2 separate regions of the Homo sapiens genome follow, and region 1 is linked to region 2. Evidence: fine-mapped expression QTL. Tissue or cell type: whole blood. Region 2 holds a variant in brackets; the other region holds the start of a gene. All regions are shown on one strand. Distances are between the middles of the regions.

Region 1 (8,105 bases), 150 kb before region 2:
TCATTAAGATTGGGCCAAAAAATAAATCTTAATAATTTTGAGATTAATATGTTTTCTCTGATCACAATAGAATTTTTGTAGATCTATCTACAAAATTGTAGATATCTACAATATGATATCTACAAAATCCTAAAATTTACAGATTAAATATTAAATAAATAAATACTATAATAAATATTAAATTTAAATAGTTAAATATTTAAAATACTCATATTCATATTTAGAATGAAAGCAAGACACACTTTTATATAATCAATATATTAAAAAATAACAAGGAAAAATATAAAATATTTTGGACTGAATAAGCAAAACACAGCAAATCAAAATTTGTGATAGACAGCTAAAGTGTGGCAGCTTTAAGCGTTTATGTTTAAAACAGAAACATTTTAAGAAACAATGATTTAGGTTTCTACCCTGAGTAGAAGAATCAAGGAATAAATTAAATATAAAATGAATGGAAAAGAAGAAATAATAAAAATAGACACGGAAATAGAAATGATAGAGACACATTAATTCTATTAATTTCTATTTATAGACATTTCTATATATAATATAGAAATTATAAAGTGTAATAAAATGGAGAAACCTCTATCAAGATTGAAGAAGAAATAACAAAGAGAAAACTCAAATTACCAATATTAGGAATAAAAAGGGAAGGGCATGAGTCAGATCTGAAAGACATTAAAAGGGTAATGGGGAATTATAAACATCCTCTAAGAAAAAATATGCAGTTCCAGACGGTTTTTCAGGTGAATTCTATCAAATGTGTAAGAACAATATTTTACCTGTGTTACACAAACTCTTTCAGAAAGTGGAGAAAGGGGCAACTTTTCGTAACTCATTCTATAAGGCCAGTATTACTCTAATATCAAAACCTAACAAGAAGAGAAAATTACAGATTAATATCGCTCATAACATAGACACAAAAGTCTTTGGCAACACTTTAGGAAAACCAAATATAAAAAGATGATCTTTTGTGACTAAGTAAGTTTTTCCCCAGGAAGGCAAAGATTCATTTAACACCTAAAAATCAATCAATGTAATTCATCATATTAAGAGAATAAAAGAGAAATGTCCTATGGTGATCTCAATAGCTGTGGGTCTCACACCACTTACCAAAAACATTCTAAGTAAAGCAGGAATTCGAGAGAATTCATTTCTGTGATAAAGCATATCTACAAAAAATCTTCAGTTAATACCATACTGAATACTCTTAACCTATGATTAGGAACTGGGAAAGAATATCCATTGTCTCTTCTTGTATTTGATAGTTTCCTGGATGTTGCAGCAAATGTAGAAGATAAGAAAAATTAATAAAAGGCATAGAGATTAAAAGAGAAGAAAGAAAAGTGCCTTTAAGCACAGAAAACGTTTGTCTATGTAGAACATCTGAAAGAGGGCTGGGCACAGTGGTTCACACTTGTAATCACAGCACTTTGGCAGGCCGAGGTGGGCAGATCACCTGAGGTCAGGAGTTCAAGACCAGCCTGGCCAATATGGTGAAACCTGGTCTCTACTAAAAAAACAAAAATTAGCTGGGCATGGTGGCACATGCCTATAATCCCAGCTACTCAGGAGGCTGAGGCAAGAGAATCGCTTGAACCCAGGAGGCAGAGGATGCAGGGAGCTGAGATTGCACCACTGTACTCCAGCCTAGGGGGGATACAGCAAGACTAAAAAAAAAAAAACACTAAAGAATCTACAAAGAAACTACAAAATGTAAATAGAAAATGAGCAAGGTTTCAATACAAAAGTAAATATATCAAAAGCAGTTGTTTTGTCCATATACTACTATATGCCAATATATGTATATAGTACGTGAGTACACACACACACACACACACACACACACACACACACACACACACACCCCATCATCATCATCATTTTCAGGGGCTAGGGAAGTTGATATTGGTCAATTATCAATCTCACCCAGGGCCCTGACAGCTGGCCTATGGAATTATTGCAAGTGATATTGGTGCCCTTGGGGCATAAAGCTTTTAAGCTAGCATGGATCTTGTATCTACCTGATGTACATCTTATGTCCTCGTTCCTGGGAGAAGACAGCTCACAGACAGCTGAGTTTTTGGCTGCACATCCTACTTAGAAGAGAAATGCCTGATTGTGCCATGCTGACAAGTGTTGGTCCTGGCAAATACAGAAGGAAATAAAGAGAAATAAAAAGCATGTAGATTACAACAGAAGGAAAACTAGCTTTATTCACAGAAACATGATTCCTAGAAACATTATTGTGTATGTAGAAAATCCTATGGAATCTGCAAAGAAACTACCTGAAATCAAAAGCGATTTCAGTGAGGTTCAATATACAAACTCAATATGTATGCATATATACATTTATGTACATACACAGTCATGCACCTCATAACAAGGTTTTGGTCAACAATGAACTGCATATACGACAGTGTTCCCATAAGATAATATGACATTGTTACTGTTTCTTTTCTGTGTTTAGATATATTTAGATACACAAAGACTTAACGTTGTGTTACAATTGCCTCAAATTCAGTATATGCCGTACAGGTTTGTAGCTACAGGCTATACCATATGGCCTAGGAGTATAGTCAATTATACCATCTAGGTTTGTGTAGGTACAGTCTATGATGTTTGCACAATGACGAAAATCACCTAATGATGCATTTCTCAGAAGGTATTCCCATTGTTAAAGCGACACTGGACTGTATTATATGTATTACCTATATTCTACCAATGAACTATCAAAAATTAAAATTTAAAAGATTCCATTTACAATAGCATTTACAAACCCCATAGAATACTTAGAAATAAATTAGCAAAAGCTGTGGAAGATCTATGCACAGACAACTGCAAAACAGTTGCAAATTTTCTCTTAAAAAGCCAGATAGTATGAGGTTGGTACAAAAGTAATTGCGGTTTGAAAGTAATGGCAAAAACCACAATTACTTTTGCACCAGCCTAATAAGTAGCATAGCCTTTGTGGGTCACGTTGTCTGTGACACAGACTCTTTGTGTTTCTGTGTATTCTGCTGCAACTCTTTAAAATTGTTAATAGGATCCTTCACTCACTGGCCTTACATGTAGGCTACAGGCTAAATTTGTTGGCCCATAGGCTGCAGTGCTGACCCTTGCTGCGAAATATTTCTAGGAGAAAATACTCAAGACCTAAATCTATGGAGATATATATCATCCCTGTGGCCTGGAAAAGTTAATATTGGCAAGTTGTCCATCTTGGCCAGGACCCTGAAAGATAGTCTATGTTATTGTAAGAAAGATTGGTGTCCTTGGGGGCATGGGCTTTTAAGCCAGGGTGGAATCTGCAGAAGTCTGAGGTGCCATTTCCTGTCCCTATACCTGGGAGAAAATAGCTCTCAGACAGCTGTGTGGCTTTCTGCAAAGCTCAATTAGAAGAGAAATTATCAGGCGTGGTGGCGCATGCCTGCAGTCTCAGCTACTTGGGAAGCTGAGGTGGGAGGATCTCTTGAGCCCAGGAGTTCGAGGTTGCAGTGAGCTGTGACTCCAGCCTGTGTGACAGAGTGATACGCTGTCTGGAGAAATTCATCATGGAGATATGCTGATAATTGGTGGTCCCTGCCTACATCCTCCCAGGAGACTGAGCCAGACCCGGTGTGGCCAATGGTCCACTTATAAATTGAACCATGTTAGACCTCCTAACAGTGCAAGTACTCATTACAGCTCTGACATGGTGCTAAGCACCCCAAGTATTATAAACAAGTGTAATCCATTATGCACACACGGTGAGGCTACACCAAAGTCTGGTGGTTAAATGCATGATCTGTGGAATCAGACAGCATGGGTTCAAACCCTGGCTGGGGTGAGATGGGGAACTTTCTAAGGCTTAAATGCTGTTTTACCAAATATTTTAAAAGAAGTGAAAATACACTGCCTGTTAGAAAGGGAAGTTTTGGGGTGAAGCATGTGGGCAGTTTAGAATACCTGGTGTCCACCTCAGAAACCATCACAGCCCAGATGTTATAGGTTCAGGCCTTTCCAGGGCGGGCACATAGAATGTCCTCGCCTCCAAGGTTTGGAGAGCTGCGCTATAAAGGTTCTTGCAGGCGGTGTCCTGAGCCCAGAGCTGCCTGCAGGCGGGCAGGAGTTGTGGGGGTGTTGGCATGATCTGGTGTCCTCTGTGGCGGCTGCCTGAAAAGAAGAGGCCGAGGGTTCTTTGTCCTATGTCTCTCCGAATCTTAATACCTGCCCTGCAGCAGACTCCCTGGCTGCCAGGGCACACCGGTCACCCCGGTAGACGGTGCCGCCCCGCCCTCGCCAACCCCTTATCCCAACTCCCATTTCCAGCCTTCCAGGAAGCCCGATCCCCACCCCCGCACCATGTGAGCTGCTCCTCTACTCCGCGTAGGGGAGGCTCTGCCTCCGGTGACCCCGAGGGAAAGAGCTAGAGCACCCACAGGTGCTGACTGCTGCGGCGCTGAGGACGCTGCACACCCGTTCACCGGCTGACCCAGTGCTGCTGACAACCAGCGTCCGCGGCCCCCAACCGTCGAACAGAGCGCGTGGGACCATCTGGTGCCAAACGCCTGCAACGGAGTGCAGAAGGTCACGAGGCGCTAGAGACCGGTTGGGGGCAGGCGGTTGGGCCTTGACGCTCTTTGCTGGGCGTCGTTTTTTCTTCTCGCCCCCTTCGCTCCTGTGCGCTTAGTGCACAAGCCCTGGGCTCACACACCCTTTCTCTGTCACGTGTTCCAACAGCATCTCACCTGCATCGGGCTGAACAGGAGACCTCAATTTTCTCCTCTACTCCAAGGATTCGCCGGCTCACAATTGCTCTTCATATCTTCAGCAAGCTTTGTCTGTGCCCTGCCCCTCTGTCCCCCATTGCCTACCATACCCGCTCCCACCAAGCCTGCATCACCTCGCTGTCTCTGTGCCTCTCCCCGGCCCCCTTCCAGGCCTTTCTCCCACAATTTCTGGTCTTTGCTCCTGGGTGTTCCGTCGACCCTAAGAGGCGGTGTCTGATCTGGCAGGCTCAATGCCTTTCTCTGGCGCTGTCTGCACCTCCAATATATTCAGTGACTCAGGAAGGATCCATCCTGCAGGGCCCAGATAGACTCTCCTGTTTGCCACCTGAGCAGAAAGGCACCTCTGTGAGGTCTTTGCCACCCAGTCACCCTACCAGACCCAATCAGCACGTGGGAGACGTGGATGACAGGAGGACAGAGATGGAGAGGGACCAAAAGACTACATGGGGCCTTGAAGGATGTCATAAGAACGTTGCCTTTTACTGAGAGATGGGAACCATGGAGGGTTTCAAACTGCTGAGACTGGCATGATATGACTTAGGGCTTTTTTGTTTGTTTGTTTGTTTGTTTTTTCTTTTTTGTGACGGAGTCTCAGAGTCTTCCTCTGTCATCCAGGCTGGAGTGCAGTGGTGTGATCTTGGTTCACTAGAACCTCTGTCTCCCGGGTTCAAGACATTCTCCTGCCTCAGCCTCCCGAGTAGCTGGGATTACAGGCACCCACCACCACGCCCGGCTAATTTTTGTCTTTTTAGATGTTTTATCTCAGAGAAAGAGCTTCCATGTTCTCTAACTCTTGTAAACAGGTATTCTTCAAGAAACTTTACAATATAACATTCATACACAGAAGTGTACAAATCATCTGTCTATTCCTCAATACATTTTTGCAGAATGAACAAACCTATGTAATCTAGATCAAGAAGCAAAACACAGGCACCTCAGAATCAACCTCATGCTCATTCCTAGTCACTATGCCCCTCCCAAATTTTTAACATTATAGATTAGTTTTGCCTATTTAAAAACTTTATATAAATGGAACCCTACCATGTGTCCTGTTTGTGGCTGTGTCTTTTCATTCAACACTTCATAAAATTCATCCATGTTGTTGCTTTTAGCAGCACTTTATTCTTTTATATTGCTGTGTGATGTTCCATTGAACAAATATAATTTACCCATTCTATTATTGATGGATGTTTGGCTATTAGAAATAATAATGCTACTGTGGCTAGGTGTAGTGGCTCATGCCTGTAATCCTAGCAGTTTGGGAGACTGAGGAGGGAGGATTGCTTGAGACCAAGAGTTCAAGACCAACCTGGCCAACATAGTGAGACCCCCATCTCTCTTTAAAAAAAAAAAAGAAAGAAATAATGCTGCTGTGAACATTCATGTGTATGTTTTCGACTACTTCTGAGGTAGGACGCAGGACTCGACTCCAGAGCCGGGGCTTGGACACTGGAGCAAATTGAGGACTAGCTAAAACAGGGTCAGGGTGGAAGCAGCTTTCCATCAGACACACCCACCAGTGTGCTATGTCAGTTTACATTTGTCATGGCAACATGCAGGAATTACTGCTCCTTTCCATGGCAATGACCCAATGACCCAGAAGTTACTACCCTTTTCCTAGAAATTTCAGCATAAACCACCCCTTAATCTGCATGCAATTAAAAGTAGATGTAAATATGACTGCAGAACTGCCCTGAGCTGCTGCTCTCTGCGCCCTGCCGATAGAGTAACCGTGCTCTGCAGGAGCAGTCACAGAGCTGTAACACTGCCTCTTCAATAGAGCTGTCTTCTTCCACCACCAGCTCACCCTTGAATCCTTTGCTGGGTGAAGCAAAGAACCCTCCCAAGCTAAGCCCCAATTTGGGCTTGCCTGCCCAGCATCACTTCCAATATCATGGAAATTTTCAGTGATGCCTACTATGAGGTTTATTGCTTAACTTTTCACATTTAGCTCTGGAATTCTCCTGTCGATTTGCATGTCTTTTGTAGATTTATTTCATGTTTATTGATGCTACTATAAATCCTCTGAAGGGATTTACCTTTGGATGTAGAAGGCAGCTAGGATGGGAAAGCACACTTTATTCTGAGATTAATGTAAGTCAGAGCCATGCTTCACTCTTTTTGAAGGCTGGCTCTCTCCTGTTATCCTTATTTCTGGGATACTGGCTTTCAGACGTTTTACATGAAAACCTGAGTATTTTTTGGGGACCCTCTTCATTGGCAGGTCCTGACTCTGAATTTTTTTCTCAGCAGCCGCTGAAATTGCTGAATTTTACCTCCAAAACTTGATTTGAAAAAAACGAAGCAAAGGTAGAAAGAATATCATTCTAAAATCATTGTTTTATAAACAGATTTTGCTACGTAGATGCAATTGGCCATAATAATGGCAGAGAAGGCCAGATTTTCTTTCTAACTGTTATAACAGTTTTTAAACATGAAAAAGGTTCATTTAGAAAACAATGTTAAGGTAGGGGCACGGCAGAGAATGGGAAGATGGTCAGCCGGGAGGAGCAGTGCAAGAAGAGAGCAAAGACACAAGCACTCTTGTGTGCAGAAAAGGCATGGTGAACATAGGGGTAAAAATCACTAGCCCTTCTCGGAGCAATTCCAACATTATCTGAAGGAAAGTCCATGGACCATGAGAACCCCCCACCTTCTGAGACACATATATCTGGACTGTGGGACTTTGACCCATGTTGGATCAGCCAGATCCCCTCTCCCTGGAGCAGTTTGTCGGCACAGGAAGAGAACAGCTCAGCCCTTGGAGAGAGAGTCACTTATGGGTAGGATGCCCTGGCTTCCTATGGCTGGCAAGTGTGAAAGTTGATTATATAAATTGAGCCATTCTTGTTATACCCAACTAAAACAGAATTGGAAGGCCAGGAGGAGAAAACACACTCAGGGCACGCCAAGAATGTAATTCTTTGCAAGCCTAGCTGCTGAAATTGCCTGCTGTAACCCAAAAACGGTTTTATGTAGTAGCTTCTGAAACAACCTGCCGGACTCTATGATTACTTTTACCCACTGCTATCACTTACCAATCAGAACTTGCCAGCTCCCCAAAACTTTACTAGTGCCAATGAGTTGTCTTTGCAAAATAAATTGTCTTTGCTCTTTTAACGAAACCTCTTTCTATTTGTTCTTCTAAAAGGCTGCCCAGTTGTGTGCCCTGAATTGCAATTTTCACTTCCCAAATAAAACAGTTTATATTTATAGAGATTTATCTCTGTATTTTGATTTCGACCCAACGCCCTGATTTGCTCACTGCTGTGATCCAGTTGTACCTCCAGGTTCAGTCAATCCTCTCCAATTCTTCAAGGATTGTCCCAA
Region 2 (8,105 bases):
ATCTGTTTGGCTTTTTTTTTTTCTCTCTCTGGAAACCTCTAGAACTGATGTTCTGAAATATTATTACCATATTTTAACAATTGTGGAGCACTCTGCAGGCTCTTCAAATTTCTTTCAGTTATGGGGACATTTCTTTAATACTTTCTTCACTACTGGAGTTTCTGTTTTCTCTTTTTTGGAATTTCTGAATTTATCCTCTAATTTTCTTATATTGTCTCTTATTATCCACTTTTGTCTTTTATTCTGCTTTCCAGAAGTTTTCCTTTTAGTTTGTCATTGTTTTTTAGAGACAAATTCTCAGCGGCTGGGCACGGTGGCTCATGCCTGTAATCCCAGCACTTTGGGAGGCCGAGGCGGGCGGATCACAAGGTCAGGAGATCGAGACCATCCTGGCTAACGCGGTGAAACCCCTTCTCTACTAAAAATACAAAAAATTAGCCAGGCGTGGTGGTGGGCACCTGTGGTCCCAGCTACTCGGAAGGCTGAGGCAGGAGAATGGCGTGAACCCGGGAGGCGGAGCTTGCAGTGAGCCGAGATTGAGCCACTGCACTCCAGCCTGGGCGTCACAGAGAGACTCCATCTCAAAAAAAAAAAAAAAAAAAGAGACAAATTCTCGCTCTGTCACTCAGGCTGGAGTGCAGTGGCACTATCATAGCCCACTGCAGCCTCAAACTCCGGGGCTCAAGCAATCCTCCTGCCTCAGCCTCCCAAGTAGCTAGGACTGCAGGCTTGTACCACTTGTACCACCATGCCCTGTTAATTTTTTAATAGAGATAGGGTTTCACTATGTTGCCCAGGCTGATCTCAAACTCCTGGTCTTAAGAGATCCTCCCACTTTGGTCCCCAGTGTGGTGGTGTTGGGTGACGGGACTTTTAAGAGGTGATTTGGTCATTAAGAGAGACTGATGCCATTCTCTCGAGACTGGGTTAATTCTGGAGGCAGTGAGTTCTCACTCTTTTGGGACTGGATTGGTTATTGCAAGGGCAGGCTGTTATAAAGTGAGGTTCCCCTTAAGTTTTGCCCCTTTGACACACACCTGCTTCTCTTCTGCTTTTCCATCATGTTATGATGCAGCACTAGCCCCTCCCCCGAAGCCAACCAGATGCCACCCACTCGGTATTGGACTTTTCAGCCTCCAGAACCATGAGCTAAATAAATTTCTGTTCACTATAAATTACCCAGTCTGTAATTTATAGTGGTATATTCTGTTATACCAACAAAAAATGGACTAAAACAATCACTGTCCGTTTAGATTTACCCACACATTTATCATTTTCATTGCTTGTTATTCCATCTTACAGCTCATATTTTCCCTCTGATATTGCTTTTCTTTCTTCTGACCTAATTTTTTAAGAATTTCCTTTAGGGGGATATGTTCATACAAAATATTTCAGTTTTTCTCTGAAAGTGTATTCAGTTCATCTTCATCCTTGAATGATTCTTGGGCCTGCAGTTCTAGATGGACATGTGTTTTCTCCCAGCACATCAAAGCTATTGTTCCATTGTCTTCTCGTTCCCATTTTTGCTATTGAGAAATCAGTAGAAAGTCTAATTTTGTTTTCATATATGTAATCCATCCTTTATTTCCAGCCACTTTTAAGATTATGTCATTTTCTTTGGTATTCTGTGGTTTCTAGGTATGCTTTTTAAATTATTCTTTAAAAACTGAATCGAGGCTGGGCGTGGTGGCTCACTCCTGTAATCCTAATACTTTGGGAGACCAAGGTAGGTGGATCACCTGAGGTCAGGAGTTTGAGACCAGTCTGGCCAACATGGTGAAACCCTGTCTCTATTAAAAATACAAAAATTAGCCAGGTGTGGTGGCACATGCCTGTAGTCCCAGCTACTCAGGAGGCTGAGACAGGAGAATCGCCTGAACCCAGGAGGCGGAGGCTGCAGTGAGCCGAGATCATGCCACTGCATGGCATTTTCTTCATCTGATTTTTTTTTTTTTTTGAGACAGAGTCTTGCTCTGTCACCCTGGCTGGAGTACAGTGGCATGACCTTGGCTGACTGCAACCTCCACCTCCGGGGTTCAAGCCCTTCTTGTTCTTCAGCCTTCTGAGTAGCTGGGATTACAGGCATGCACCACCACATCTGGCTAATTTTTGTATTTTTAGTAGAGACGGTTTCACATGTTGGCCAGGCTAGTCTCGAACTCCTGACCTCAAGTGATCCACCCGCCCTGGCCTCCCAAAGTGCTGGGATTATAGGTGTGAGCCACTGTGCCTGGCCTCTGAATTTTTTTTAATGTTGCTTTTATCCTTTTTCTTTTGATAACTTTGTTCAGTTTCTTTGAATACCCTTTCTTCTCTATCTTTTTAATGAAACTTTCCAAACACAGAAAAGTCGAAAGAACTATGCAGCAAATAGCTGTATACATACCACCTATGCCCTTAACATTTCACTGTACTTGCTCTATATGACTTTTTTATGTGTCTAAAGTGAGTTGCAGACATCAGGTTCCCACCCCTAAATCTGCCGGTTATGCATTTCTCTTTTAGCTACCTTTGACTTGGGGGGAACTCTTCCTGTGCCAAGTAATTGAAGACATTTGTGCACAGTAGGGGGAAGCTTTTGTTTCTGCCTAGCAGGAAGCATTTCCAGTTTCCAGGAACGTTGCTAATTTAGAGGAATATGTGTATGTGTGAGTTGCTTAAACTTCCTTTGCCCCAGATGGCCAAGAACAGCATCCGGAAAGCCACTTACAGTGCAGCAGCTCAGCCCCACCTCCTCCTGGCAAGCAGGCAGCATCCTGTCCAGACAACTGTGTGTTGATCCCTCCTCCAGCACTGCTTTCCTGGCCCCAGACATCAATGGCAGCAAGTGCCAGGAAGGTTCCAACGGCCAGGCTGTATCTCTCACTCTTTGTGTTCCAAACAGGTGACTGCTGGTTTGCCCATCACAACGAGCCTCTTGTGCCTTGTAGGCTTAGTCTAAGATCAGAACCATGGGCACTCCTTCTTGGCTTCCTCCTCGACTCACTTGACTTTTCCTGTGTTGGTAGCTCTTCCTCCTCTGACCTTTCAGATACCCCCTAGTTATGCCAGAAGTGCAGAGTGCATTTATGTTTCTGAATCCTCCTTGCTGGTCTGGTGTAATTCCTGAAAGAAGGCATACTGCAGTAATTTTACTTATGATTCTTTTTGCAACTAGCAAGATCAACCAGATATTTATTTATTTTCATTTTTTAGAAAATTTTAATATAATTTTAATGTTGTAGGGAGCATGGGGAATATGGAGAAGGGCAGGAAGAGACTTTTGTGGGTGATGTTGGTTAGCTTGATTGTGGTGGTGATTTCATGGATATATACAAATGTCAATATCAAAGATAAAAATTGTATAATTTAAATATGTGCAGTGTATCATATATCAATTATACTTCAATAAGCCTGTTAAAATAGTTTTAACAATGATGATATATTGCAACTTTTATGTATTTTAAACTAATTGAGTTTTTATACATGAAATTGTACATGTAATTGAGTTTAAAATACGTAAAATTTTAATGACAAGTTAAATTTTATAACATACATTCAGTAAAGTGCATAAATCTTAAATGCATAGTATAATTAATTTTTCATATGACTACCACTACCACTCAGATGAAAATATAGAATACTGGCTGGAAGCAAATGGCTCATACCTGTAATCCCAGCATTTTGGGAGACCAAAGCAGGAGGATCCCGTGTGGCCAGGTATTTGAGACCAGCCTAGGCAACATAGCGAGACCCCATCTCCACAAAAAATAAAAAGTAAAAATATTAGCCATATGTGGTGGCACATACCTGCAGTCCCAGCTACTCGGGAGGCTGAAATGAGAAGATCAGTTGAGTCTGGGAGGTTGGGGTTACAGTGAGTTATGATTGTGTCACTTCATTCCAGCCTGGGCTACAGAGCAAGACCCTGTCTCTAAAAGAATAAAAAAAAATATAGAATACTTCCAACACTTCAGAAGATCCCTCGCGCCCTCCTAGTCATTATCCCCTG[A/C]GGGTAAGCACTATTCTGACCTCCATCACCATGGATTGGTTTCGCCTGTTCTTGAACTTTATATTAATGGAGATGCATTCACGCTGATACTTGCGGCAATAGTTTGCTCATTTTCGTTGCCATATAGTATTCCACTGTATGAATATATCACAATTTATTTATTCATTCTCTTTTTGATGGACATTAGGGTTGTTTCAAGGTTTTGGCTGTTATGGATAAAGCTGGTATGATCATTCTTATTCAGGACCTTTAATGGACATTTGTGGTCTTTTTACTTGAGTGTTGTAGTAAGTAGTATAATAGCCCCCCAAAAGATATGTCCACATCCCAACCCTCGGAACCTGTGACAGTGACTTTATTTGGAAAAGGAGTCTTTGTACATGTAATTTTTTTTTTTTTTGAGATGGAGTCTCACTCTGTTGCCCAGGCTGGAGTGTGGTGGTGCAATCTCGGCTCACTGCAACCTCTGCCTCCTGAGTTCAAGCAATTCTCCTGCCTTAGCCTCCCAAGTAGCTGGGATTACAGGCATGCACCACCACACCCAGCTAATTTTTTTTTTTTTTTTTTTTTGTAGAGATGGGATTTCACCATGTTGGCCAGCCTTCACCATGTTGGTCAGGCTAGTCTCCAATTCCTGACCTCAGGTGATCTGCCCACCTCGGCTTCCCAAAGTGCTGGGATTGTGGGTGTGAGCCACCGCACACAGCTTGTACATGTAATTAAATTAAGGATCTCAAGATAAGATCAGCTTGTATTATCTGAGTGGGCTGTAAATCCAATGACAAGGGTCCTTGTAAGAGACACAGGGAGTAGGAGAAGGCCATGTGGAGACAGAGGCAAAGATGAGGGTTATGCAGCCCCAAGCTAAGGACTGTTTAGAGCCAACAGAAGCTGGAAGAGGCAGGGAAGGATTAGAGCCTTCAGAGGGAACATGGCGCGGCTGACACCTTGACTTTGGCCTTCTGGTCTCTAGAACACTGAGATAATAATTCTGTTGTTTCAAGCCACAAAGTTTGGGATCATTTGTGACGGCAGCCAAAGGAAATTAATAATACAAAAGTTCACTTTATTAATACTCATTTATATTTGTTTGTGATGTGCACAACACTCCAATGGAAATTTTAAAAAGTGTTTGGAGTACAGACTTTCCCAAGCCTGGCTAACTTTTTCTTCCTTCTCTGGGAATGGATGTTTTGCGCAGTGTACAGAAGTGTGGAGAGTGACCCCAATGTCCTTGTTGATGTGTGTCTGTAAATCTTACCTGTCACAGTGTGGGCACTCTGAGAGCCCTGTGTCCCCACCAGAAGCATCTGTTCCTTATGCAGCCTGAGTGTCCTCTGCTAGGGTGGCCAGTTCCCCTCCTCCTGCCCTGCCTTTTTGCAGGTTCACAGGTGCAAGACTGGCTGTTTCCTGTTAATATTAACTATACTTGAATTTTCAAGGATTTTTTTAAGAAAAAAATATATAATGCCAATACAAAAAAAAACACAGGAAAAAAAATTAACCTTACTAAACTAAACCTGCCCTGATAGGAGGGTTCTTCTCACAAACCTGACTGCAGAGCAAAATGGAATTGCTCCAATTTCTCCCTTTGCAAACAGGCATGCATCAACTTCTCATTTTAACAACTTTCTTTCTTTCTCTTTCTTCTTTCTTTCTTTCTCTCTCTCTCTTTCTTTTTTTCTTTTTTTTTTTTCAGACAGTCTTGCTCTGTCACCCAGGCTGGAAGTGTAGTGGTGCGATCTTGGCTCACTGCAGCCTCCATCTCCTGGGTTCAAGGGATTCTCCTGCCTCAGCCTCCTGAGTAGCTGGGACTACAGGTGCACGCCATCACACCCAGCTAATTTTTTGTATTTTTAGTAGAGAGGGGGTTTCACCATGTGGGCCAGGCTGGTCTTGAACTCCTGGCCTCAAGTGATCCACCCGCCTTAGCCTCCCAAAGTGCTGGGATTACAGGCATGAGCCACTGTGCCCAGCCTTTAACGACTTTCTTAATAAGTGGTGTGGGAAAACACCCAGAGCTAAACAAAACCAACATGGGGAAGTGACAAGCATTTGAGAATTCTTACATTTCTCATAGCTGTATTCCCCCAGAATCTGGTATCCAGCTTTTTTTTTTTTTAGTCTGGAGACAGGTTGGAGTGCAGTGGTGTGATCAGGGCTTACTGCAGCCTTGCCCTCATGGGCTCAAGCAATCTGCCTGCCTCAGCCTCCCAAGTAGATGGGTCCACAGGCATGTGCCATCAGCCTGGTTAAATTTTCTATTTTTTTTGGTGAAGATGAGGTCTTGTTATGTTGTCCAGGCTGGTCTCAAACTCCTGGGCTCAAGCAATCCTCCTGCCTCTGCCTCCCAAAGTGCAGAGACGATAGGCAGGAGCCATTCCAGCATCTCATATGATGTGGTTGTTGAAATCGACTCTCTCGGGAACATTTAACAATAGCTAAAACAGTTGAGTGGGCACTGGGTGTGTGCTTCAGCTCAGGCTCTTACTTATATTGTTAGATTCCCTCAAAATCCCTGGAGGTGGGGAATTTCCTTGAGGTGGGGGTTTTCCACGCTTTCCAGATGAGGGCTGTACGCTCATTGACTAGAGGCACCGTGTCTAAGTGTCTGAGGCTTAATTCCCATTCTCTAGAAGAGCAGCTGACTATGTGTATGTCAGTGGGAAAGGGGAGAGCCCAGAAAATCATTGCAGTTTATCACAGCCACCCCCACCCCCTCCATCACTGCAGAAACTGAGCCTCCACTATCTTGGAGTTTCCTTGAAGAGTTCCCAGTCTTGGTGAAATATGGGATGGACGGCCAGGCACAGTGGCTCACGCCTGTGATCCCAGCACTTTGGGAGGCCAAGGTGGGTGGATCACTTTAGGTCAGGAGTCCGAGACCAGCCTGACCAACATGGTGAAACCCCATCTCTACTAAAAATACAAAAATTAGCCAGGCGTGGTGGCGCATGCCTGTAATCCCAGCTACTCGGGAGACTGACGTAGGAGAATCTCTTGAACCCAGGAGGTGGAGCTTGCAGTGAGCTGAGATTGCGCCACTGCATTCCATCCTGGGCAACAGAGCGAGACTCTGTCTCAAAAATAATAATAATAATAATAATAATAATAAGAAATATGGGATGGAATTTCCATTGGATGTTAAAGATCCTTCCAAAATAGGTATTTTCCACAGAAAATGTTATATTTGGTCTGACAACTCCTTGCAAAAATGAACTCAAATGGTCAGGAATATTTGTTGCTCTAGGTTTTCAGAAGCAGAATGGGCATCCTTTCTTAGAATACATTCTGGGCCCCTCAGGGTGTTCAGGGTGGGAATAAAGTATATAAAATGAGAAGTCAAAACAGGGAAGAGGTACTAGGGGGGAAGCTGGGCAGAGGAAAGGAACCCTTGGGAGGCCCAAACTTTAATGCTCTGGTTCATAAAATGCAAAAAAAAAAAAAAATCCATTCTCATCCCTCCTGTCCTGTTATTGTCAAGATGCTAGCTCCTTGGACAATTCAGGATACACCAAGCTTTCTCCCCGGATAGCCGCAAGTTTAAGGGCAGGAAATGGCCTTGGACTGGGTGCCTTTGCTGAGAGAACAGCAGCACTTTGATCCAAGATGTCCAAAAGACAAAGCAGAAGTTCATGAGAAACAGAGGCCCCAGCATCACTTGGGGTGGCGGGGAGGGACCTGTGCAGCTTGCGCCATGGACACCTCGTTAGTGCATAGGAGTGCATCAGTTTTACAGAAACGGGGCTCCATCTAGCCCAAAGGGAGAACGCCCAGGCTGTGATCAAAGGATTGAGGGTAGGACATCAAAGGTTAGGGACTTTCCCGAGTGGAAAATATGGGAAGGGATTGGGTCAAAACCTTACAGAGAATGTGGGCGAGATTTGGTAAGACGTCAAAACTTAACCAGACCCAAGTGGGCATATTTAGGGGAAAACCAGAAGTCATAGTTCATTGGAAACAGACAGATACGGTCAACAAATCTTCATGTATCTGGGGAGTGCAAATATCACGTTATTCCTTATTGTGTGTCAGAAATACGCAAGCCCACACTGTGTTGAGTACCTGCGTGGGAGTGGGAGATGTTCAGGCCTGCACACGACCTATCTGTGCC

What was found. PIP is the estimated chance that this variant, and not a neighbour inherited with it, causes the effect.
Region 1: LINC01801 starts here. The variant in region 2 is fine-mapped to the expression of LINC01801 in whole blood (TOPMed, PIP above 0.99).

What each region holds. Positions count from the first base shown.
Region 1 is chr19:34,828,379-34,836,483 of GRCh38, forward strand. LINC01801 (long intergenic non-protein coding RNA 1801) reads right to left here and starts at 4,491. Exons shown (of 6, transcript NR_033982.1): 1 at 4,347-4,491; 2 at 3,952-4,158; 3 at 2,028-2,148; 4 at 786-875.
Region 2 is chr19:34,982,967-34,991,071 of GRCh38, forward strand. No RefSeq gene overlaps it. Among named protein-coding and RNA genes, the nearest start is that of GRAMD1A, 13 kb to the right of the region's middle. The variant A/C (reference allele first, on the strand shown) is at 3,992.